Linked DNA regions of Homo sapiens: region 1 is linked to region 2. Evidence: fine-mapped expression QTL. A gene starts in region 2. The other region holds a variant in brackets. All regions are shown on one strand. Distances are between the middles of the regions.

What was found. PIP is the estimated chance that this variant, and not a neighbour inherited with it, causes the effect.
Region 1: its variant is fine-mapped to the expression of FLYWCH2 in whole blood (INTERVAL, PIP 0.92).

The regions. Positions count from the first base shown.
Region 1 is chr16:2,902,097-2,913,849 of GRCh38, forward strand. It overlaps FLYWCH1 (FLYWCH-type zinc finger 1), which reads left to right and starts at 9,835. Exons shown (of 10, transcript NM_001308068.2): 1 at 9,835-10,058. RefSeq lists silencers at 2,243-2,472, 3,143-3,962, 5,129-5,198, 9,586-9,645, 9,696-10,005 and 3 more and an enhancer at 3,028-3,528. The variant C/T (reference allele first, on the strand shown) is at 3,851.
Region 2 is chr16:2,877,849-2,889,714 of GRCh38, forward strand. It overlaps FLYWCH2 (FLYWCH family member 2), which reads left to right and starts at 5,367. Exons shown (of 4, transcript NM_138439.3): 1 at 5,367-5,518. RefSeq lists an enhancer at 4,284-4,784 and silencers at 4,513-4,982, 5,483-5,652, 5,743-5,802.

The DNA.
Region 1 (11,753 bases), 24 kb after region 2:
AACCCTGTCTCTACTAAAAAATACAAAAAATTGGCCAGGCGTGGCAGTGGGCATCTGTAATCTCATCTACTCGGGAGGCTGAGGCAGGAGAATCACTTGAACCCAGGAGGTGGAGGTTGCAGTAAGCCGAGATCATGCCATTGCACTCCAGCCTGGGCGACAGAGCGAGACCCCATCTCAAAAAAAAAAAAATGCAATTATGGATATCCATTCACATTTTAAATCCAAACACAAATTTTAAAACATTAATTTTTTAAATTAAATTGAAAATTTTAAAAATTCTGCCACTTTCTTGCTCCTTCACTTCTTGGGGACTTTGATGTACAGGCCCAAGCAGGGTTCCCGGGATCTAGTGGTAAACAGGTCACAACCCATCCCCCGCAGAGCCACAGAGGAAACATAGAAATCCCTGACTGATGAGTCTATGAACCTGAGGCTAAGGGCCACCGAGGAGTCTGGGTGCCGCGGGGTGTATGACAGAGGCCAACCCAGTGGGGGCCAGCCTGGGCAACATAGTGAGACACTGACTCTACAAAAAAATACAAAAATTAGCTAGGTGTGGTGGTGCGTGCCTGTAGTCCCAGCTACTGGGGAAGCTGAGCCAGGAGGATCACCTGAGCTCACCTATAGTCCAGCTACTCAAGAGGCTGAGGCTGGAGGATTGCCTGAGCCCAGGAAGTCAAGGCTGCAGTCAGCCATGATGGCACCACTGAGCTCCAGAGTGGGTGACATGATGAGACCCTGTCTAAAAAAATGTATATAAAGTGGATTTTTGTAGGAGGGGGTTGCAATAGCAGCTTACTTAGTTCACTCCATGCATCGACCTGGTATTGCAGTAGCTCCAAGAACGGTGCCCCCCGCCCATGTGTGTGGTTGCTGAGTGTAGATGTCATTAATTTTAATTTTGAAAAGGGGACAAAAATTACAAATTACCTCCAGTAATTCCACTACTTAGAGGTAAATTTTAAAAAATATATGTGTGTGTGTGTGTATATAATATATATACTCTGGCTATATATATATTTATATTTATACATATTTATATATATTTATATATATTTATTTATATATTTATATATATTTATTTATATATTTATATATATTTATATTTATATATTTGTATATATAAACTCTGGCTATATATATATATTTAGCCAGAGTTTCACTCTTGTTGCCCAGGCTGGAGTCCAGTGGTGCGATCTTGGCTCACTACAAACTCTGCCTCCTGGGTCCAAGTGATTCTCCTGCCTCAGTCTCTCCAGTAGCTGGGATTACATGCATGCACCACCACACCTGGCTAATTTTTTATTTTTAATAGAGACAGGGTTTCTCCATGTTGGTCAGGCTGGTCTCGAATTCCCGACCTCAGGTGATCCACCCGCCTCAGACTCCCAAAGTGCTACGATTACAGGCGTGAGCCACCGCGCCCGGCCAAAAAATATATATTTTTAAAATTTTTTTATTTTCAGAAAATCAAGGTGATGCCACACATTTGTTGTTGAGACAGAGTCTCGCTCTGCCGTCCAGGCTGGAGTGCAGTGGGGAGATCTCGGCTCACTGCAACCTCCGCCTCCCGGGTTCAAGTGATTCTCCTGACTCAGCCTCCCGAGTAGGTGGGAATACAGGCGCGCGCTAGCGTGCCTGGCTAATTTTTGTATTTTTAAGTAGAGACGGGGTTTCGCCATGTTGGCCAGGCTGGTCTTGAACTCCTCACCTCAAGTCATCCTCCCGCCTCGGCCTCCTAAAGTACTGGGATTACAGGCATGAGCCACCGTGCCTGGCCCACATATGTTTTTTCATAATGTGTTACAAATGTCTTCCTTCTTATGAATGCTGCACAACATTCTTTTTGCTGCTTGATGCCCACTGCAGGGATGCGTGAAATCCACTAGCTCCAGTGGCCAGACACATCCCGGTTGCCTCCAGGTTGTAAGCAATCCTGAAATAGCCTCGTATGTTCCTAGGACAGAGTTCTAGAAGTGAGATTGCCGAACTGGAAGAATGCAAGTTACATTCAACCCACGTCCTGCGAATGCCGATCTCTCCGGCATTTGTCAACACCTGGTTTTATCATCAAGAAGAAAACAGTAATAACGCGTCCTCCGCTTGGCCCTAGCGTGCACAGCCTCTGCGCTTTTCACCTCGAGGTCTCATTTTCCTTGGACAGCACCGAGCGCTGGGCAGGGCCTCATCCGGGTTCAGGGCCGGAATCTGGAGACGTTCTGGCCGATGCTCCTGACGGCCGGGAGAGGGCGCGCGCGGACTCAGCGGCGGCCCAGCAGCCTCCCCAGGACCCAGGCAGTGCTGGCAGCCAGGAGTGCGGTTCCGCCCCGCAGCCTCAGTCCCGCTCCGCCCACCCGCCTGACCCCCACCCGGGCTCCTTACGGCCCAGACACCGGCTCTAAGGTGGCTTCTGCAGGGATGGGAGGTGGGCGACTGGGAGGGGTGGAGGGGGCCTGTGTGTTGACCCTGCGGGTGGCAGCCGTTGGGAAATTGCAATGGCGTCCACACTGTCGCTGCCCAGGGCGCGAGCCGCAGCCTCTCCTCCCGTCTCGCTTCCTCCGACAGGCGCCCGACTCGGACACACGGCGCCCCTGTGGTTACCACATCCACTGCTTTTTGGTCTCCTCACCCAACCCCTTAACATAAACTCGACACCAGGGAAGGCATCTTGGACGATTTTGGTCCCTGAGGGTCCTAGTGCGAAGGGCAGGGAGAGAGGGAGCGGTGTGGTGCAGGGGGATACAGAACGCGGAGGACATCTAGGGGCTGAGGATGCGGGGACGAGGAGCGCGCGGAAGAGCCGAGGTTCCGGGGTTGGGGGGTGCGGATTTCAGAGGAACCGCCGGGGATGTGGACGGACTCGGAAGGAAGGGGTCCCAGAGAGGACGCGGGCGGCTGCAGGACACAAGAGGTGCGGGACGCAGGAGGCCGTGGGGTCGTGCGGGAGCCCAGGGCACCTCGACATGGACCCGCCAGACCTGTGGCTCCTCCAGCGGCCGCTTTAGAGCGAGAGGAGGTGCGCAGGCCGTGAGGCGGGTCTCCCTGGGGTCTCCCAGGGAGGAGCGGCGCCCTCCCCGAGCCAGCCGAGGACGCGCAGCCAGAGGGGGGTCGGGCGGAGAGAAGAGTGCGGGCGGACCGGGACGACCCCTGGGTGATAGGAGAGCCGCAGTGAGCCCAGGGCACGGTGCTGGGGCCGCTCTGGCCGCCGCCGCCAAGCGTCACAGGAAAACAGCAACCAGGACCCCGCGGCTCCTGGCGCTTGGACTCAGCCCGGTACCGCACCGCGTTGCTGGAGAATGTGTCCTTGGCGCGCGCTGAGCCAGGAAGGGACAGCGGGAAGGGCGGGGCCCGTGGGCAGGGGAGGGACCAGTGGGCGGGGACCGAATCAATTCGCTAGCGGTGAGCCAGTGGTCGAGGGCTAAACCAATGGGCAAGGCGTGGACCAATGGGCGAGTGCTGGACATCAATGAATGGGGCCTGAACTAATGGGCGGGGTGGGGCCAAGGGGCGGAGCTGAGCCAATAGAAGGGAGCGGAACCAATGGGTGGGGCTGAACCAATGGGCGGGGCGGGGCCAATGGGCTAGGGCTGGGCCGGGGCGGGGCCAATGGGCTAGGGCTGGGCCGGGGCTGGGCCAATGGGCGGGGCTGGACCAATGGGCGGGCCGGGCCAAGGGCGGGCACTAAGCCGACGGAAGGGGTGGAACAAAAGGGCGGGGATGGACCAATGGGCGAGGGATGGGCTGGGCCAATGGGCGTGGCTAGACCAATGGGCGAGCGAAGGGCCAATGGGCAGGGCGGGGCCAAAGGACGGGGTCTGAGCCAATGGAAGGGGGCGGTACCAATGGG[C/T]GGGGCTGAACCAATGGATGGGTTGGACCAATGGCAAGGGCTGGACTAATGGACGAGGGATGGGCCGGGGCTGGACCAATGGGCGAGGGCTGGACCAATGGCCACGGGCTGGGCGGTGGCTGGGCCAATGGGAAAAGGAGGATTTCACCTCGTGGAATGCTCAGGGGATGAAGGGAGTATTCCTTTATCTAGCTTCTACTTTGACATAATTTCTCACCTACAGAAAAGTTGCAAGAATCCCAAAAGGAGGTTGACTGGGGTGGCTCACGTCTGTTTCCCAATGCTTTGGGAGGCCAAGGAGAGAGAATCGCTTGAGCTCAGGAGTTTGAGACCAGCCTGGGGAACATAGGGAGACCACGTCTCTAGTAAAAATTAAAATTAAGACCGGGAGGGGTGGCTTACGTCTGTAATCTCAGCACTTTCGGAGGCCAAGGTGGGTGGATCACCTGAGGTCGGAAGTTAGAGAGCAGCCTGACCAACATGGAGAAACTCAGACTCTACTAAAAATCCAAAACTAGCCGGGCGTGGTGGCGCATGCCTGTAATCCCAGCTACTCAGGAGGCTGAGGCAGGAGAATCACTTGAATCCGGGAGGCAGAGTGCAGGGACCAGCCCCACAGGGTCTGTGGGTCTCTCCCCGTGTGCGGCGATGAGAGAGTGTAGAAATAAAGACACAAGACAAAGAGATAAAAGAAAAGACAGCTGGGCCCGGGGGACGACTACCACCAATGTGCGGAGACCGGTAGCGGCCCCGAATGTCTGGCTGCACTGTTATTTACTGGATGCAAGCAAAAGGGGCAGGGTAAAGAGTGTGAGTCATCTCCAATGATAGGTAACGTCACGTGGGTCATGTGTCCACTGGACAGGGGGCCCTTCCCTGCCTGGCAGCCGAGGCAGAGAGAGAGAGGAGACAAAGAGAAAGACAGCTTACACCATTATTTCTGCATATCAGAGACTTTCAGTACTTTCACTAATTTTCTACTGCTATCTAGAAGGCAGAGCCAGGTGTACAGGATGGAACATGAAGGCAGACTAGGAGCATGACCACTGAAGCACAGCATCACAGGGAGACGGTTAGGTCTCCGGATAACTGTGGGCAAGCCTGACTGATGTCAGGCCCTCCACAAGAGGTGGAGGAGCAGAGTCTTCTCTAAACTCCCCCGGGGAAAGGGAGACCCCCCCCCCCTTTCCTGGTCTGCTAAGTAGCGGGTGTTGTTCCTTGACACTTTTCGCTACAGCTAGACCATGGTCCCCCTGGCAACGGGTGTCTTCCCAGACGCTGGCGTCACCGCTAGACCAAGGAGCCCTCTGGTGGCCCTGTCCGGGCATAACAGAAGGCTCGCACTCTTGTCTTCTGGTCACACCTCACTGTGTCCCCTCAGCTCCTATTATGGTATGAGGCCACCACTTCTCCTGTTGTCCTTCCCAGTTTCTCCCCAACCTCCCCTTTTCCCTAGTTTATAAGACAGGAGAAAAGAGAGAAAGCAAAAAGTTGGAAAGAAACAGAAGTAAGATAAATAGCTAGACGACCTTGGCGCCACCACCCGGCCCTGGTGGCTAAAATAATAATATTATTATTAACCCCTGACCAAAACTACTGGTGTTATCTGTAAATTCCAGACATTGTATGAGAAAGCACTATAAAACTTTTTGTTCTGTTAACTGATGTTTGTAGCCCCCAGTCACGTTCCTCATGCTTACTTGATCTATTACGACTTTTTCACGTAGACCCCTTAGAGTTGTAAGCCCTTAAAAGGGCTAGGAATTTCTTTTTCAGGGAGCTCGGCTCTTAAGACACGAGTCTGCTGACGCTCCCGGCCGAATAAAAAAACCTCTTCCTTCTTTAATCCGGTGTCTGAGGAGTTTTGTCTGCGACTCGTCCTGCTACACTATCTCTGTATGGCCTGGTTTTTCCTAGGTTATGATTATAGAGCGGGGATTATTATAATATTGGGATAAAGAGTAATTACTACAAACTAATGATTAATGATATTCATATATAATCATGTCTAAGATCTATATCTGGTATAACTATTCTTGTTTTATATTTTATTATACTGGAACAGCTTGTGTCCTCAGTCTCTTGCCTCGGCGCCTGGGTGGCTTGCCGCCCACAGCAGAAGTTGCAGTGAGCTGACATCGCGCCATTGCACTCCAGCCTAGGCAAGAAGAGCGAAACTCCGTCTCAAAAAAAAAAAAAAAAATTTAAAAAATTAAAAAATTAGCCGGGGTGGTGGTGCGCACCTGTAATCCCAGCTACTCGGGAGCCTAAGGCGGAAGAATCGCTTGAACCCGGAGGCAGATTTGCAGCGAGCCGAGATCGCACCATTGCACTCCAGCCTGGGCAACAGAGCGAGAGTCCCCCTCAAAATAATTATAATAATAATAATTGCGGCCGGGCGTGGTGGCTCACGCCTGTAATCCCAGAACTTTGGGAGGCCGAGGCAGGCAGATCACAAGGTCAGGAGATTGAGACCAACCTGGCTAACACGGTGAAACCCTGTCTCTACTAAAAATACAAAAAATTAGCCGGACTTGGTGGCGGGCGCCTGTAGGCCCAGCTACTCGGGAGGCTGAGGCAGGAGAATGGCGTGAACCCGGGAGATAGAGATTGCAGTGAGCCGAGATCACACCACTGCACTCCAGCCTGGGCAACAGAGCAAGACTCCGTCTCAAAAAAAAAAAAAAAAAATTGCGGTGGTCTCAACGATGTAAAATTAAAGGTAGTGATTCATTTTCACAAAGATTGACAAGAAAGATGACAACTGGAAACTCAAAAGACCCAGAGTAGGCAAAAGAATATTGAAAAGGAATAACAGGCAGGACGCAGTGGTTCATGCCTGTAATCCTAGCACTTTGGGAGGTCAAGAGGGCAGATCACCTGAGGTCAGGAGTTCGAGACCAGCCTCGCCAACATGGTGAAACCCTGTCTCTACTAAAAATACAAAAATTTAGCCGGACGTGGTGGTGGGTGCCTGTAATCCCAGCTACTTGGGACCCTGGGGCAGGAGAATCACTTGAGCCCGGGAGGTAGAGATGGCAGTGAGCCAAGATCGCACCATTGCACTCTAGCCTGGGCAAGAAGAGCAAGACTCCGTTTCTAAATAAATAAATAAGTAATAGATACATCAATGGAATAGAATCAAGAATCCAGAAACAAACCACATTTATGATCAATTGGTTGTCAACAAGGGTGCCAAAGGTAGGGCGTGGTGGTTAGCACTTTGGGAGGCTGCGGCGGGTGAATAACTTGAGCCTAGGAATGTAAGACCAGCCTGGGCAGGATAGGGAAACCCCGTCTCCACAAAAAAAAAAAAAAAAAAAAAAAAATTAGCCGGGTGCGGTGGTGTGCACCTGTAGTGCCAGGTACTTGGGAGGCTGAGGCAAGAGGATCAATGGAACCCAAGAGTTTGATGGAAGCTGCAGTGAACTGTGATCTCACCACTGCACTCCAACCTGGACGACTGAGGGAGATTCTGTCTCAAAAACTAAACAAAACAAACGAAGAAACAAAAACAGCATCCTGGCCGGGCATGGTGGCTCATGCCTGTAATCCCAGCACTTTGGGAGGCCAAGTCGGGCAGATCACCTGAGGTCAGGAGTTTGAAATCAGCCTGGACAACGTGGTGAAACCCCGTCTCTCCTAAAAATACAAAAATCAGCCGGGCATGGTGGCGCACGCATGTAGTCCTAGCTATTGGGGAAGCTGAGGCGGACAATCTCTTGAACCGGAAAGCAAAGGTTGCAGTGAGCCAAGATAGCGCCATTGCACTCCAGCCTGGGCATCGCAGTCAGACTCCTCTCAAAAAAAGCTGGAGGGGCTGGGCGTGGTGGCTCACGCCCGTAATCTCAGCACTTTGGGAGGCCGAGGCGGGCGGATCACAAGGTCAGGAGATCGAGACCACGGTGAAACCCCGTCTCTACTAAAAATACAAAAAATTAGCTGGGCGCAGTGGCAGGCGCCTGTAGTCCCAGCTACTCGGGAGGCTGAGGCAGGAGAATGGCGTGAACCCGAAAGGCGGAGCTTGCAGTGAGCCGAGATGGCGCCACTGCACTCCAGCCTGGGCGACAGAGCGAGACTCCGTCTCAAAAAAGAAAAAAAAAAAAAAAAAGCCGGGCGTGGTGGCAACTGTCTGTAATAATCCCAATCCCAGCTGCTCAGGAGGCTGAGGCAGGAGAATCACTTGAACCCGGGAGATGGAGGTTGCAGTGAGCTGAGGTCGTGCCACTGCACTCCAGCCTGGGCGACAGAGCAAGACTCCATCTCAAGAAAAAAAAAAAGTAATTAAGTTCTGCTACTATTTTATTTTTGAACAGGGTCTTGCTCTGTCGCCCAGCCTGGAGTGCAGTGGCATGAGCGCAGCTCACTGCAGCCTCCAGCTCCCAAGCTCAAGTGATCCTTCCACCTCAGCCTCCTGAGTAGCTGGGACTACAGCGCATCACCACATCCAGCTAATTTTCTCTTGTTCCTCTTTTCTTTTTTTCTGTAGAGAAAGAGTCTCACTATGTTGCCTAGGCTGATCTCAAACTCCTGGGCTCAAACGATGCTCCTGTCTCAGCCTCCCAAAGTGCTGGGATTACAAGCAAGAGTCACTGTACCCGGCCAACATGGATGAACTTTGAAAGTGCTATGCTAAGGCTAGGCGAAAGAAGTCAGTCACAAGAGACCACATATTTGTTGCATGATTTCATTTATATGAAATATGCAGAATACGCAAATCTATAAAGACAGAAAATAGATCATATTACTTAGGGCTGGGGTGATTAGCAAATTGGAGGGTGGTGGCTAAAGGTTTCTTCTTGGAGTGATGAAAGGTTTTAAAACTGACTATGGTGCTGTTTGCACAACTCTCTGACTATACTACATATCATTTAATTGTACACTTTAAATGGGAGAAATGCATGGTATGTGAATTATATTTCAATAAAGATCTTACCAAAAAATAGTAAGCTGATTGTGTTAACATAGTTTTATGAAAAAGTACAATATTTTCCCAAAGAAATTTAGTGAGACGAGTGACATAGTTATACATTTTTGCAAATATCTTTGTTGCGGGCTTAAAAGAAGACTACTGGCTCTCATACCTGCTTCTACATTCAATGTGTTACATCACACGTCATGCAGACTTTGTAATACTATGTAATATTTCTGCTTTTTTTTTTTTAGACACAGTCTCACTCTGTCGCCCAGGCTGGAGTGCAGTGGCGCCGTCTCGGCTCACTGCAACCTCCGCCTCCCGGGTTCAAGTTATTCTCCTGCCTCAGCCTCCCGAGTAGCTGGGATTACAGGCGCCCAGTACCACGCCCGACTAATGTTCGTATTTTTAGTAGAAACGGGGTTTCACCATGTTGGCCACGCTGTTCTCGAACTCCTGACCTCAGGTGATCCACCCGCCTCGGCCTCCCAAAGTGCTGGGATTACAGGCGTGAGCCACCGCGCCCGGCCCAGGTATTTTTTTGTCGTTGTTGGCTTTCTGATGTAAGAAACAACTGTCCCTTCTCCCCCGTTGACTTATTTCCTTCAGTTTGGACTCATATCGTAGTCAAGGTTATAATCCGTTGCTATCGCTGTTTATTTGAATCTCACACTGGTTCCGCTCTGGGGTAGGGTCACTGGGGGCGTCAATGAGATGCATGAGAATCGCCTTCCCACGGGGTCAGGAAACTGACAGGCCCAAGAGTGCATCTCAGCAAACGCTCCGTTTCCTGCGGGCAGCCTCAGATACTGGGGACCGTCCTGGGGTCTCAATTAAGCGCCCCCTACCCCAGCCCCTTTACGCCAAGAGCGTCCTGTTCAGCTCCCCCATCCTAGCTCCGCCCCTGGACGCCGCCGTCCAATCTCGGGATGGCCCCGCCTTTTCCGTGAGTTACGTCCCCGCCCCCATGCGCTGACAGGCCAGGCCTGCGGCTCGGCGCCGCGCAGGGAAGACCCGGAGCAGCGGTTTACCTAAGGAACGGGCCGCGCGGTCTTGCTGCGCATGCTCTGAAGTAGCGCGCCTGAGCGTTCCGCAAGGCCGGCTCCCCGGCGGGGTCGCGCGCGCGGTCACGGGGCTCGCTCCCGAGGGGCAGGTCGGGGCTGGGAGCTGGTGCCCGGGTCGGGGTGGCGGCGGCGGCCTGGGTCGCGGGGTCGACGCTCGCTGCTGCAGCGGCAGAGGCTGAAGGATCCGCCGCGGCGCTGTCGCGGGAGAGGGAGGGCCCCGCTGCCGTCGGTGAGGACAGGCCCCTGCGGGCGGGGAATGTCCCGCGTCCCCGGCGTGGACGCGCCCGCAGCCCGGCTCTCCCGGGGGTCCCGAGGGTTGCGGGTGCTGGGGAGGGGTCTGCGTCCCGGCGCTCAGGCCGCCTCCTGTGGGGTCTCCCGCGATTCCCTCCTTGCTCCTCGCCCCTCCATCCCCACCCCCCCGTCCCCTGGCCTAAGCCCGACACCCCCACATCAAGGATCCCCGCACTCGTCCGCCGTTTCCTGGCGGTGTCTGCCCCGCCCAGCGCTGCCTTCCTGGACCCGCAGCATCAGCCCCGTCCCACGGTTGCAGCTCGGGCGGTCCCAGTGACCTTGCACTTTTGCGGGTCGGGACGCACCCCGCTCCCGCTTCTGACCCTATAGATCTCCGGTGACGGCTTTCGAACTTTGTTGACCCACAGCCGACACTGAGAAATGCCTTTTACGCGTGTACTCTGTGCCTGTGGGTCTGGATGACTGAAGCACAAGTTTAAAGGGAGACGCTTGTTTAAGCTCACATGACGCAGCTGGATCTGTTCGGATTAAATTCCGTTCCATTCTCTTCCACCCCGTTCCAAAAGGCTGCTGCTAACCCATGGAGCCTGCACATAACGGGTCTGACGTAGTTGAAACCCTCGCTCTAAACCCTGCCTGTTGTTCCTTTATTCCTTGTACTGGAAGCTGAACTCCCATAGTCAGATAATCATGTGCAAACTCCAATTCCAACGAAATGGCTTATTTTTATTTGCATATTTCTGCTTTCCAAGGGCCAATATGATTTCCAGGGCTTGATCTAGATTTTCTCGTGTGATTATATCATGTTTCTCTTGTTCCTTTCCCAAGTGCTACTGGCGGGACGTGTGGAAGGAACAAGGCTGAGGTTGGGGCTAGATTGCGGAGTGTTTATGACGCCCAGCTGATGATGCACTAAGGCTGGAGATGGAGATGATTTAATTGGGGAGAGACATGCTGAAAGTTAAGCTTTAGGAAGAGTGACCTGTCAGCACCCTATGTGGAGAATTGGAGTGGCTGCTTGCCAAAGCTGGCAAGATCGTTCAGAGGCTTTGGCTTGGGCTAAAGAGGTCGTGGTAAGGGATCATGTCCTGAGTTGGTGGGAGTGGGAAGGAGAGGGAAGATGGGTATATCAGGCATAGAGGGAGAGAGATTTGAGGATGCATTAGGCTGTGGGAAGGAGTAAATAAACTTATATTATGATGGAGGGTGACTGGGGAATACCGGGCTGGGGGGGTCTCATTGGCCAAGCTCTCCCTTTCTGTGCGCTCTAATTTCTAAGTTGCTTTGGAGCTGTGGCTCTTGGGCAATTCTGCACCCCAGGGAACGTTCTGCAGTGTTGGTGGTCACAACGTGTGGTAGGGCATGACAGTGGGATCTGGCAGGTAGAGACCGGGGTTGCTGCTGAACACCCCACGCTGAACAGGACAGCCTCCCACAGCAGAATCATCCGGCCCAAAATGCCAACGGTGCTGAGATTGTGAAGTTCATTTTTAGAGTAAATTTTAATTATCTGGGCATCTCTGCCACCTTCAACCTCTTCAGGAGGAATGTCTGTGTGCACCCACTGAGCCTGTGATGTCACCATAGTGGTTCATGTCTGAGGCAAGTGCACCTCCAACGCTCATGGTTCAGTTGCGGGTAGGTGGGAGGTGGGTAGACACTGGAGTCATCC
Region 2 (11,866 bases):
ACCCAACTAATTTGTAAATATTTTGTAGAGATGGGTTTTCGCCATGTTGTCCAGGCTGGTCTCAAACTCCTGGACTCAAGAAATCCACCCTCCTCAACCTCCCAAAGTACTGGGATTACACGCATAAGCCACGTCGCCTGGCTGACCAAGGGATTCTGATGTAATTGAATACAAAAATTGTACTGATGCCACTTCAGATTCTACACTGCAACTAACCTTTAAGAACCACCACATGAGTTTTGATGTAGTATCAAGGAAGACTATCCACAATTATCTGAAAAGGCTGTTAAAATATTTCTCCCTTTTCCAAATATTTATCTGTGTGGGCTGGATTTTCTTTGTGTGCTTCAATGCAAACAACACATCACAGAAGAGTGAATGCAGAGGCAGTTGTGACAATGCAGCTGTAGTCTCTTAAGCCAGACACTAAAGTGATCTATTTTTTGAGACAGGGTCTTGTCCTGTCCCCCAGGCTGGAGTGCAGTGGCATGATCTCAGCTCACTGCAACCTCTGCCCGCCGCGTTCAAGCGATTCTCCTGCCTCAGCCACGTGAGTAGCTGGGATTACAGACTCGCGCCATTAAGCCCAGCTAATTTTTGTATTTTTAGTAGAGGTGGGGTTTCACTGTGTTGGCCAGGCTGGTCTTGAACTCCTGACCTCGTGATCTGCTCACCTCAGCCTCCCAAAGTGCTGGGATTACAGGTGTGAGCCACCGCGCCGGGCCAGTGATTTTTATTATTTATTTATTTATTTATTTGAGACGGCGTCTTGCTCTGTCACCTAGGCTGGAGTGCAGTGGCGCGATCTCGGCTCACCGCAACCTCCGCCTCCTGGGTTCAAGCAATTCTCATGCCTCAGCTTTCCGGGTAGCTGGGATTACAGGTGCATGCCACCACGTCCAGCTAATTTTTGTATTTTTGATAGAGACAGGGTTTCACCATGGTGGCCAGTCTGGTCTCAAACTCCTGACCTCAGGTGCTCCATCTGCCTCGGCCTCCTAAAATGTTTGGATTACAGGCGTGAGCCACCGCGCCCAGCCACTAAAGTGATTTTTAAAAGTGTAAACACTGCCACTCACTGATTCCTTTGGTTTAAAGATATACAGTGGGTTAATTACCACTGTTTTTAATAAATCTGTTTTTAAATTTATCAGTTTAAGTTCCTTTTTTCCAAGACGGAGTCTTGCTCTGTCGCCCAGGCTGAAGTGCAGTAGCATGATCTTGGCTTACTGTAACCTGCCACCGCCACCCGCGGCTCTGGTTTAAGCAATTCTGCCTCAGCCTCTGGAGTAGCTGGGATTACAGGCACATGCCAAAACACATGGCTAATTTTTTTGTATTTCTAGTAGAGATGGGGTTTCACCATGTTGGCCAGGCTAGTCTCGAACTCCTGACCTCATGATCTGCCTGCTTCAGCCTCACAAACTGCTGGGATTACAGGCGTGAGCCACTGCACCCAGCCGTCTTGTTTTTTTTCCTCACTCTGTTGCCCAGGCTGGAGTGCAGTGGCATTGTTTTGTCTCACTGCAACCTCTGCCTCCCGGGTTCAAGCCTCCCACGTAGCTGGGATTACAGTCGCCCACGACGACCACACCCTGCTAATTTTTGTATTTTTAGTAGAGACTGGGTTTCACCATGTTGGCCAGGCTGGTCTCAAACTCCTGACCTCAGGTGATCCACCTGCCTTGGCCTCTCAAAGTGGTGGGATTACAGGCATGAGCCACTGCACCCAGCCTAAATTTCTATATAGTAAATATTGATAGATGTAACCCACATAACTAAAATCTCTCTGAGCGTCTCAATAACTAACAGTGAAAATGATGGCGGCAGGAGGCAGACAAATCCCCAGGCAGACAGAGACAGATCCCATCCCTGGTGAAACTGGCCTTCAAACCAAAGACATTTTAAAGCCTGAAAACCAAGCTACAAGTCTCTGATAAATTCATGGAACATACTGAGAACCTCTCTTCCCGTGTGGCCCACTTTCCTCTGACTGATCCCCACATTTCACCTATTTTACATACACCTACCCTTCCCTAACTGGTTGTTTACACTGTCATGCCCAATTTTGAGTGCCTTTTAAGCCTTTTTTGCATACTCAGAAACCAATCAGCATGCACTCCCCCATTCTGAGCCAATAAAAACCTCAGACTCAGCCACACTTGGGGTCTACACACCATGGCGGGGGGAACTACCCGACTTTGAGAGGGTCCCCTCTTCGCTGAGAGCTGTTTGTTAGCTCAATAAAACTCTTCACCCTGCTCACCCACTGGCTGTCAGCATAACCTCATTCTTCTTGGATGTGGGACAAGAACTCTGGAGGGTCTACCACTGGTAGGAAAAAGGCTGTAACACTGTAGCCCTCCACCCACCCCCAGAACCTGCCCAGGCAAGAGGAAATAGCAGTGGGCTGGGCCAGCCCTGAAGCTGAGGACCCAAGGGGGGCAGCGGGATTGAAAGAGCTGTAACATGACACAAATGGCGGAATGGGTGGGGTGTCTCCTGCACCGAGCCCAGGCCAAGGGAGGCCTGAACAGGGGTGCTGCTGGCCATGGAGGTCTCTGGCTGACTAAGGGGCACTGAAAAATCCTGTGTCATAAGTGGTTCTGAGACCAGAAAGTTTGAGAATTGCTGGACTAAGGAATATAAATTTTAAAACCAAGACTCACCAGGCACGGTGGCTCATGCCTGTAATCCCAACACTTTGGGAGGCCGAGATGGGTGGATCACAAGGTCAGGTGTTCAAGACCAGCCTGGACAACATAGTGAAACCCCGTCTCTGCTAAAAACACAAAAAAAATTAGCCGGGCTTAGTGGCGGGCACCTGTAATCCCAGCTACTTGGGAGGCTGAGGCAGGAGAATCACTTGAACCCAGGAGGTGGAGGTTGCAGTCAGCCGAGATCACACCACTGCACCCCAGCCTGGGCAACAAGAGTGAAACTCTGTTTCAAACAAAAACAAAAAGAAACAGAAAACAACCAAGACTCTTATCAGTCCACATGACAATACTCTGTGAATTCTCACAATGGCTGTAGGAGGTGGGTGCGTTATCACCCCCATTTATCAGGTGAAGACACTGAGGCACAGAGAGGGGATGTAATTGCTCATTCACACAGCTGGCAATTGACACAGCAGGGACTTGAACCCAAGCATCTAACCCCAAGCTTGTGCACTTCCTTGGGGACAATTTGGCTACATGTTTAAAAAGCTTTTAAAAATATTTGCCTCCTTTGACCTCTTTTAAGACTTTCAAGAAATCTTTGGCTGGGTGCGGTGGCTCACACCTGTAATCCCAGCACTTTGGGAGGCTGAGGCGGGTGGATCACGAGGTCAGGAGTTCAAGACCAGCCTGGCCAAGATGGTGAAACTCCGTCTCTACTAAAAATACAAAAAAATTAGCTGGGTGCGGTGGCAGGCGCCTGTAATCTCAGCTACTTGGGAGGCTGAGGCAGGAGAACCACTTGAACCCAGGAGGCGGAGGTTGCAGTGAGCTGAGATCGTGCTACTGCACTCCGGTCTTGCCAACAGAGTGAGACTCTGTCTCAAAAAAAAAAAATCTTTAATATCTCGACAGGCAAGGTGGCTCACATGTCTAATCCCAGCACTTTTGGAGGCCGAGGTGGGCAGATCACCGGAGGTAACTCCGGTTTGATACCAGCCTGGCCAACATGGTGAAATCCCATCTCTACAAAAATATAAAAATTAAGCATGATTACCGGTGCCTGTAATCTCAGCTACTTGGGAGGCTGAGGCGGGAAAATCGCTTGAACCCGGGAGGCGGAGGTTGCAATAAGCAGAGATCACGCCACTGCACTCCAGCCTGGGCGACAGAGCGAGACTCCATCTCAAAAAAAAAAAAAAAAAATCTTTGACATCAGAGATTCATATACAAAGATATTTATAACATCATCAAGTTAAAAACAACCAGTAGTCTGTGAATGATTAATAGATAACAGCAAATAAATGCACAAAGGTAGCTGGGCACGGTGGCTCACTCTTGTAATCCCAGCACTTTAGGAAGCCGAGGCGGGTGGATCACCTGAGGTCAGAAGTTCAATACCAGCCTGGCCAACATGGTGAAACCCGTCTCTACTAAAAGTACAAAAATTAGCCGGGCGTGGTGGCGGGCGCCCGTAATCCCGGCTACTCAGTAGGCTGAGGCATGAGAATTGCTTGAACCCGGGAGGCAGAGGTTGCAGCGAGCCGAGATCACGCCACTGCACTCCAGCCTGAGCGACAGAGCGCAATTCTCGTTTCTAAAAAAAAAAAAAAAGCACAAAGGCCTTGAATGACACCAGACAATGCCCGGGGAGATAGGATAGTGGGATGGGGGCAGCGGGAGCCTTGGTAGCGGAGTCCACGGTGGGATTCAGAGACCTGCAGAGCCAGGGCCGGGAGGGGCAGGGCAGAGGAAGGGCGTGCAGCGACGCTGGCATTCGGACGTGAGAAGGCGGAAGGTGCGGGAGGCCCCAGAGGATCTCGACCTGGACCCTGGAGCCCTGGGGCGGTGGCACATTCAGCGGCCGCTTTAGAGCGAGGGGGGCGGGGCGCGGAGCCAGGCTTAGGGGGACCAAGGTGGCCGGGGTAGTGGGGGCGACCCCGCGGGGCTGGGAGAGCCGCGGTGAGCCTAGGGGGCTGTGCGGGGGCCGCTCTGGACGCTGCAGCCAAGTGTCCCAGGAAAGCAGCGCCCAGGGCCCCACAGCTCCCTGTGCCCGGACCCAGCCCAGTCCCACTGCAGTGGGTGGCTGGAGGATGGCGAGTGTCCCGGGCACCCCTTGGGCCGGGTGAACGTGGTTGGGCACGGAGAGGGCGGGGCCCGTGGGCACGGGTGGGCCCAATGGGCCAGGGCTGGACCAATAACGAGAAAGGATGAATGGACAGGGGCTGAACTACAGAGAGAGGGCGGGACTATTGGGCGAGGGCTGGACCAATGGGCAGGGGCTAAACTAATAGACGAGGGCTGGACCAATGGCGCGGATGAGGCTGCTGCGTCGTCAAGGATGCAGAGCTTAAAGCAAGGCAGTGGCTTCCATGAGCCTAAACACCTTCCCTCCGCACGCTCGGTATCGCGACGGGGGAGAGCAAAACCTTTAAACAAATGCTCCAGTTTTCCCCGCAGAGAGCCGGAGTCAAATCCGTGAGGAAGCCCGGGGGTCGCAGTGAAGCCCAACCCACTGGTGCTGGGATAACCTCGCCCGCAACCCGGATCCAGGCCGCAGGTCCCCCGAGGCTCCGCCCCTGACGGCGACACTCAATCCCGGGTGTCCCCGCCCCCTTACTGAATTTTGGCCCCGCCTCCGCCCTCCGATTGGCCGGACGCCAGCTCTACGCCGCACGGGCAAGACGCGGAGGAGCGGCCCCAGCCAGAAGACAGGGCACCCGCGGCCTTGCTGCGCATGCTCGCGCTGTGACCCCGGCTTGAGGTAACAGCGCGAGCTGAGGCTGGGGCCCTTGGCGCGGAGGCTGAGGGACCCGCCGCGGCGCTGTCGCCGGAGAGGGAGGGCACCGCTGTCGTCGGTGAGGACGGGCCCTGGCGGGCGGGGAGGGTCCTGCGTCCTCGGCATGGACGAGTCCCCGGCCCGGCTCTCTCGGGGGTCCCGAGGGCTGCGGGTGCTGAGGAGGGGTCCGCGTCCTGGTGCTCAGGCCGCCTCCTGTGGGGTCTCCCGCGATTCCCTCTTTGCCTCTCGCCCCTCCTTCCCCACCCCCTCCAGTCCCTTGTCCAAAGCCTCAACACCCCCACACGAAGGAGGTCCGCACTCGCCCGCCGGTCCCTGGCCGTGTCCGCCGCGCCCAGCGCTGCCTTCCCGGCACCCCCCAACCCCCGCCGGCCTCGTCCCACGGTTGCAGCTCGGGAGGTCCCTGCAGGGACGGCAGCGAGTTGGAGGCGTGAGATACTGGGGCGGGGGAGACACTCGGGGCCTCAGGGTGTGGGTATTCTTGAGAGAGGAGAGAGCCGGGGAGCTGGGACCATTTGGGCGCAGCCCAGCCCGCGTTTGATGCCAATTGCATTGGGTAAAGGAGTGAAATAAAGATTCTGAGCCCTGGTGATTAGGGGAAGGAGCTGCCATGGCTGAAATTGCCATGGTGGGGAAGCTCCGCGCTGCACACCTTAGAGTAGCAGTTCTTGGCCTTCTTGGGGCAGGGGTCACTGCCGGTTTTTTAAATCTCCCTGTGAGGACGTGTACTGCACACCTTAGTGTCCCGTCATCCTGTCGGGGTCAATAACAGCCCCGCTGTGGACTGCGTGGAGCAGTAATTATTGGGGAGCAGCTGTCCATATCGTCTGGGAACTTTTGCGATGACTTCACCCTTGCCTGTCATCTATTAACAGCCCCTGATAAATTCACCACTATTTCCGTTACGCAGATGAAACCTGCTGGGAGGGTAAGGGATTTGTCCTCGCGGCTGAGGATGCCGGTGCTGGTGGACATTAGTGATGTTTCTCCCCCGTGCGTATGAAGATGATTCTGTGGGTCCACCATGAGGCACCAGGCAGGGGTCCTGTCGTCCAGAACATCGTCAGTGAGGGATTGAACCTTGTATTAGTTTCCTGTTGCTGTCCTAACAAATAAGGTGGCTTAAAGCAACACAGGCCGGGCGCGGTGGTTCACGCCTGTAATCCTAGCACTTTGGGAGGCCGAGGCAGGCAGATCACAAGGTCAGGAGATAGAGACCATTCTGACTAACATGGTGAAACCCCGTCTCTACTAAAAAAAAAAAAAAAAAAATACAAAAATTAGTCGGGGCCGGCGCGGTGGCTCACGCCTGTAATCCCAGCACTTTGGGAGGCCAAGGAGGGTGGATCACCTGAGGTCGGGAGTTCGAGACCAGCCTGACCAACATGGAGAAACCCCGTCTCAACTAAAAATACAAAATTAGCCGGGTGTGGTGGTGCACGCTTGTAATCCCAGCTACTTGGGAGGCTGAGACAGGAGAAAGGCTTGAACCCGGGAGGCAGAGGTTGCAGTGACCCAAGGTCGCGCCACTGCACTCCAGCCTGGCCGACAAGAGCGATACTCCGTCTAAAAAACAAAAACAAAAAAAAAACTCCGGGTGATTCTTAGGGATAGTGACATTGGGGAACTGCTGTTCATATGTTCATAGACTCAATTTACCTTTTTCTGAATATTTAACAACTTTATTGAGATAATTCACATACCGTGCAATTTACCCATTTAAAGTGTACATTTCGGCCGGGCGCGGTGGCTCACGCCTGTTATCCCAGCACTTTGGGAGGCCAAGGAGGGCGGATCACGAGGTCAGGAGATCGAGACCATCCTGGCTAACACGGTGAAACCCCGTCTCTACTAAAAATACAAAAAATTAGCCAGGCGTGGTGGCAGGCGCCTGTAGTCCCAGCTACTCCGGAGGCTGAGGCAGGAGAATGGCGTGAACCCGGGAGGCGGAGCTTGCAGTGAGATCACGCCACTGCACTCCAGCCTGGGCGACAGAGCGAGACTCCGTCTCAAAAAAACAAAACAAAACAAAAAAAAAAATATACAGTTCAGTGGCTTTAGTGTGATCACAAAGTTGTGCAACCCTCATGAAAATTCCTTTTAGGACATTTTCATCACCCCATAAAGCACATACCCACTAGTAGTCAATTCTCATTCTCCCCTTCCCCACCCCAATCCCGAGATAACCACAAATCTACGTTCTGTCTCCATAGATTTTCCTACTCTGTAGATTCTCTAGACTCTAAGTAATTTCATGTAAATGGAATCATATAATATGTGGTCTTTTGGGTCTGGCTTCTTTTACCGAGCATAATTTCTTCAAGGTTCATTCATGTTGTAGCATAGATTTTTTTTACTGCCAAATAATATTCCATTTTATACATGCACCACATTGTACTTATTCATTCATCCATTGATGGATATTTGGGCTGTTTTGAATATCCATCGAAACGTTTTGGCTTTCATGAATAATGCAACTGTAACATTCATGTACACATTTTTATGTGGACATGTGTTTTCCTTTCTTCCAGGCATATAGCTAGTAGTGGAATTGCTGGGTCATAGGGTAACTCTACATTTAACCTTTTGAGGAACTGCCAGGCTGGTTTCCAAAAATGGCTGCACCATTTTACATTCCCCTCAGCAGTGTATGAGGGTTCCAGTTTCTCCTCATCCTCACCAGCACTTGCTATTATCTGTTTTTTGTTTGTTTTATTATGTCCATCCTGGTGGTGTGAAGTGATATCTCATTGTGGTTTTGATTTGCATTTCCCTGGTGACTAATGATGTTGAGCATCTTCTCATATATTAGCCATTTGTATATCTTCTTTAGAGAAAAGCCTGTTTGGAGCCTTTGCCCATTATTATTATTATTGTTATTATTTTTTTTTTTTAGACGGAGTACCACTTTGATGCCCAGGCTGCAGTGCAGTGTAGTGCAGTGGCGCCACCTCGGCTCACTGAAATCTCCACCTCCCGGGTTCAAGCAATTCTCATGCTGCGCAGCCTCCTGAGTAGCTGGGATTACAGGCATGTGCCACCATGCCACCAATCCAAAAAAGAAAATAATTTTTGTATTTTTAGTAGAGACAGGGTTTCACTATGTTGTCTAGGCTGATCTCGAACTCCTGACCTCAGGTGATCCTCCTGCCTCAGCCTCCCTAAGTGCTGGGATTACAGGCATGAGCCACCACGCCCTGCCCCTTTGTCCTTTTTTTTTTTTTTTTTTTTTTTGAGGCGGATTTTGCTCTTGTTGTCCCGGCTGGAGTGCACTGGTGCAATCTCAGCTTACCGCAACCTCCGCCTCCTGGGTTCAAGCAATTCTCCTGTCTCAGCCTCCTGAGTAGCTGGGATTACAGGCATGTGCCACCAAGCTTGGCTAATTTTGTATTTTTAGTAGAGACAGGGTTTCTCCATGTTGGTCAGGCTGGTCTCGAACTCCCGACCTCAGATGATCCACCTGCCTCGGCCTCCCAAAGTGCTGGGATTACAGGTGTGAGCCACCATGCCCAGCCGCCCATTTTTAAATTGTTTGTTTGTTTGCTTGTTTATTACTGAGTTGTAATAGTTCTTTATAAATTCCAGATACAAGTCCCTTATCAGATATATGATTTGCAAACATTTTTTCCCATTCTATGGGTTATCTCTTAACTTTCAAAAGTTTTATGGCTAAAACACAAAACTCTTAAACTTAGTTGAAGTCCAGTTTATTTCTTCATTGGTTGTTTGTGCCTTTCATTATATTGAAGAAAGCTTTGCCTAATCTAAGGTTATGAGAATTTAGTTTTTCTTTTAAAAAAAAGTTTTATTACTGTAGCTCTTGTAATAAACTATAATTTTTTGTTTTTTTGTTGTTTTGAGACAGGATCTCACTCTGTTACCCAAGCTGGAGTGCAGTGGTGCAATCTCGGCTCACTGCAACCTCCGCCCCACTGGCTTAAGCAATCCTTCCACCTCAGCTTCCCAAGTAGCTGGGACCACGGGTGCACACCACCATGCCCGGCTTTCTTTTTTTTTTTTTTTTTTTGTATTTTTAGTAGAGATGAGGTCTCGCCATGTTGCCCAGGCTAGACCTGAACTCCCGAGCTGAAGAGATCTGCCCACCTCAGCCTCCCAAAGTGCTAGGTTTATAGGCATGAGCCACCATGCCTAGCCATATAATTTATTTAGAGTTAATTTTTGTATATGCTGTGAGGAAAGCATACAACTTCATTCTTTTGTATTGGATATTCAGTGGTCCTAGCATTTAATGTTTGTTTTTATTATTATTATTATTATTTTTTGAGACAGAGTCTTGCTCTGTCACCCAGGCTGAGGTACAGCAGCACAATCACAGCTTACTGCAGCCTTGACCTCCCAGGCTCAAGCAACGCTCCCACCTCAGCCTCCCAAGTTGCTGGAACTACATATGTGCCCCACCACCCTGGTTAATAATATTTTTTTTAGAGATGAGATCTCACTATGTTGCCTAGGCTGGTCTGGAACTCCTGGGTTCAAGCGATCCTCCTACATCACCCTCCCAAAGTACTGGAATTACAAGCATGAGCCACCACGCCTGGCCCAACATTTGTCGTTAAGACTATTTTCCCTCCACAGAACTGTCTTGCCACCTTTGCTGAAAATCAGTTCACCATATATATAAGAGTGTATTTCTGGACTCTCAGTTCTATTCTGTTGATCTCTGTGTCTGTGTTTTGTTTGTTTGTTTGTTTGTTTTTTAAGAGGTGGAGTCTCGCTCTGTTGCCCAGGCTGGAGTGTAGTGGCGTGATCTCGGCTCACTGCAACCTCCGCCTCCCGGGTTCTAGCAATTCTCCTGCCTCAGCCTTCCGAGTAGCTGTGACTATAGTTGCATGCCGCCACACTCGGCTAATTTTTTGTATTTTTAGTAGAGACGGGGTTTCACCATGTTGCTTATGCTGGTCTCAAACTCCTGAGTTCAGGCAATCCACCCACCTTGGCCTCCCAAAGTGCTGGGATTACAGGCATGAGCCACTGTGCCCGGCCTGTGTCGGTCTTTATGCCAGTACCACATTGTATTGATTACTGTAGCTTTGTGATAATATATTTTGAGATAGAGATGTGTCAGTCCTGCAAGTTTTTTTTTTTTCAAGATTGTTTTTGCTATTCTGGGTTCCTTGAATTTTCATATGAATTTTAGGACCAGCTTGTCAGTTTCTCCAAAAAAAAAAAAAAAAAAAGCCAGCTGGAATTAAGAATCTATAGATCAATGTCAGAAGTGTTGTCATCTTAACAATATCAAGTCTTCCAATCCATGAACATGGGATGTCTTTCCATTTGTTTAGGGCTTCTTTAATTTCTTTCAACAATGTCATGATCTTCTTGGGGAACCTGAAGCCCAGTAGGTGCTCCAGTCCTGTGGGCTGACCAGCTTGACCAGCTAAGCCTCTTATCCTGGAGGAAGTCCCAGGACTGGCTTCTTCTTGGCTACCTTGTCCTCCAAATGGAGAGTATGAGGAGATCTTCATAACCTTCACTTCTCTGAGATTCTGTGGAATTATTTCTCTGCAGCTTCATGAGCTAGAGCAAATATCATGGTTTTTAAGAGCAGAAGTAACTTTTTAAGTTAAAAAGTCATGGAAGCAAATTTATTATTGCACTACTTAGGAGGTGTGCATGGGACTAATTGTAGAAAAGAAATATTTGTCATTTTTGAAAATGAGGTATTAAACACTATGATTAACTGAAATTTGATATTCAGAAAAGTATCACTTGTGTTTTTCCAGAACGCATAAAAATGATTCATAAAACACAGTTCCTACCAGGCAACCTTTGTCAGGGCCATTTTGCTCAAAATTTGGTGTTTTTTTGTTGTTGTTGTTGTTGTTTGTGTGTGTGTATACATGTGTATACAGTCATTTTTCAATCTGTTCTTCTAACCTTTACTTTTTTTTTTTTTTTTTTTGAGACGGAGTCTCGCTCTGTCACACAGCTTGGAATACAGTGGCCCGATCTTGGCTCACTGCAAGCTCTGCCTCCCAGGTTCACGCCATTCTCCTGCCTCAGCCTCCCGAGTAGCTGGGACTACAGGCGCCTGCCACCATGCCCGGCTAATTTTTTGTATTTTTAGTAGAGATGGCATTTCACCGTGTTAGCCAGGATGGTCTCAATCTCCTGACCCTGTGATCCACCCGCCTCAGCCTCCCAAAGTGCTGGGATTAGAGGCGTGAGCCACTGCGCCCGGCCAACCTTTACTTTTAAAGAAAAAGCACTAGGAAAGACTATATTAAAAAAAAAAAACAACCTGAAAAAGAGCAAAGTTGCTTATGCTGGGTTTTCTGTGATAAAATAGTTAATGTTTTGGGTCATATTAATGCAGCTAGCTACTTACCTTTAAAAAAAACTTTTTATTTTGGAATTATTTTAGCTTTATAGAAAAGTCCGAGAGGCA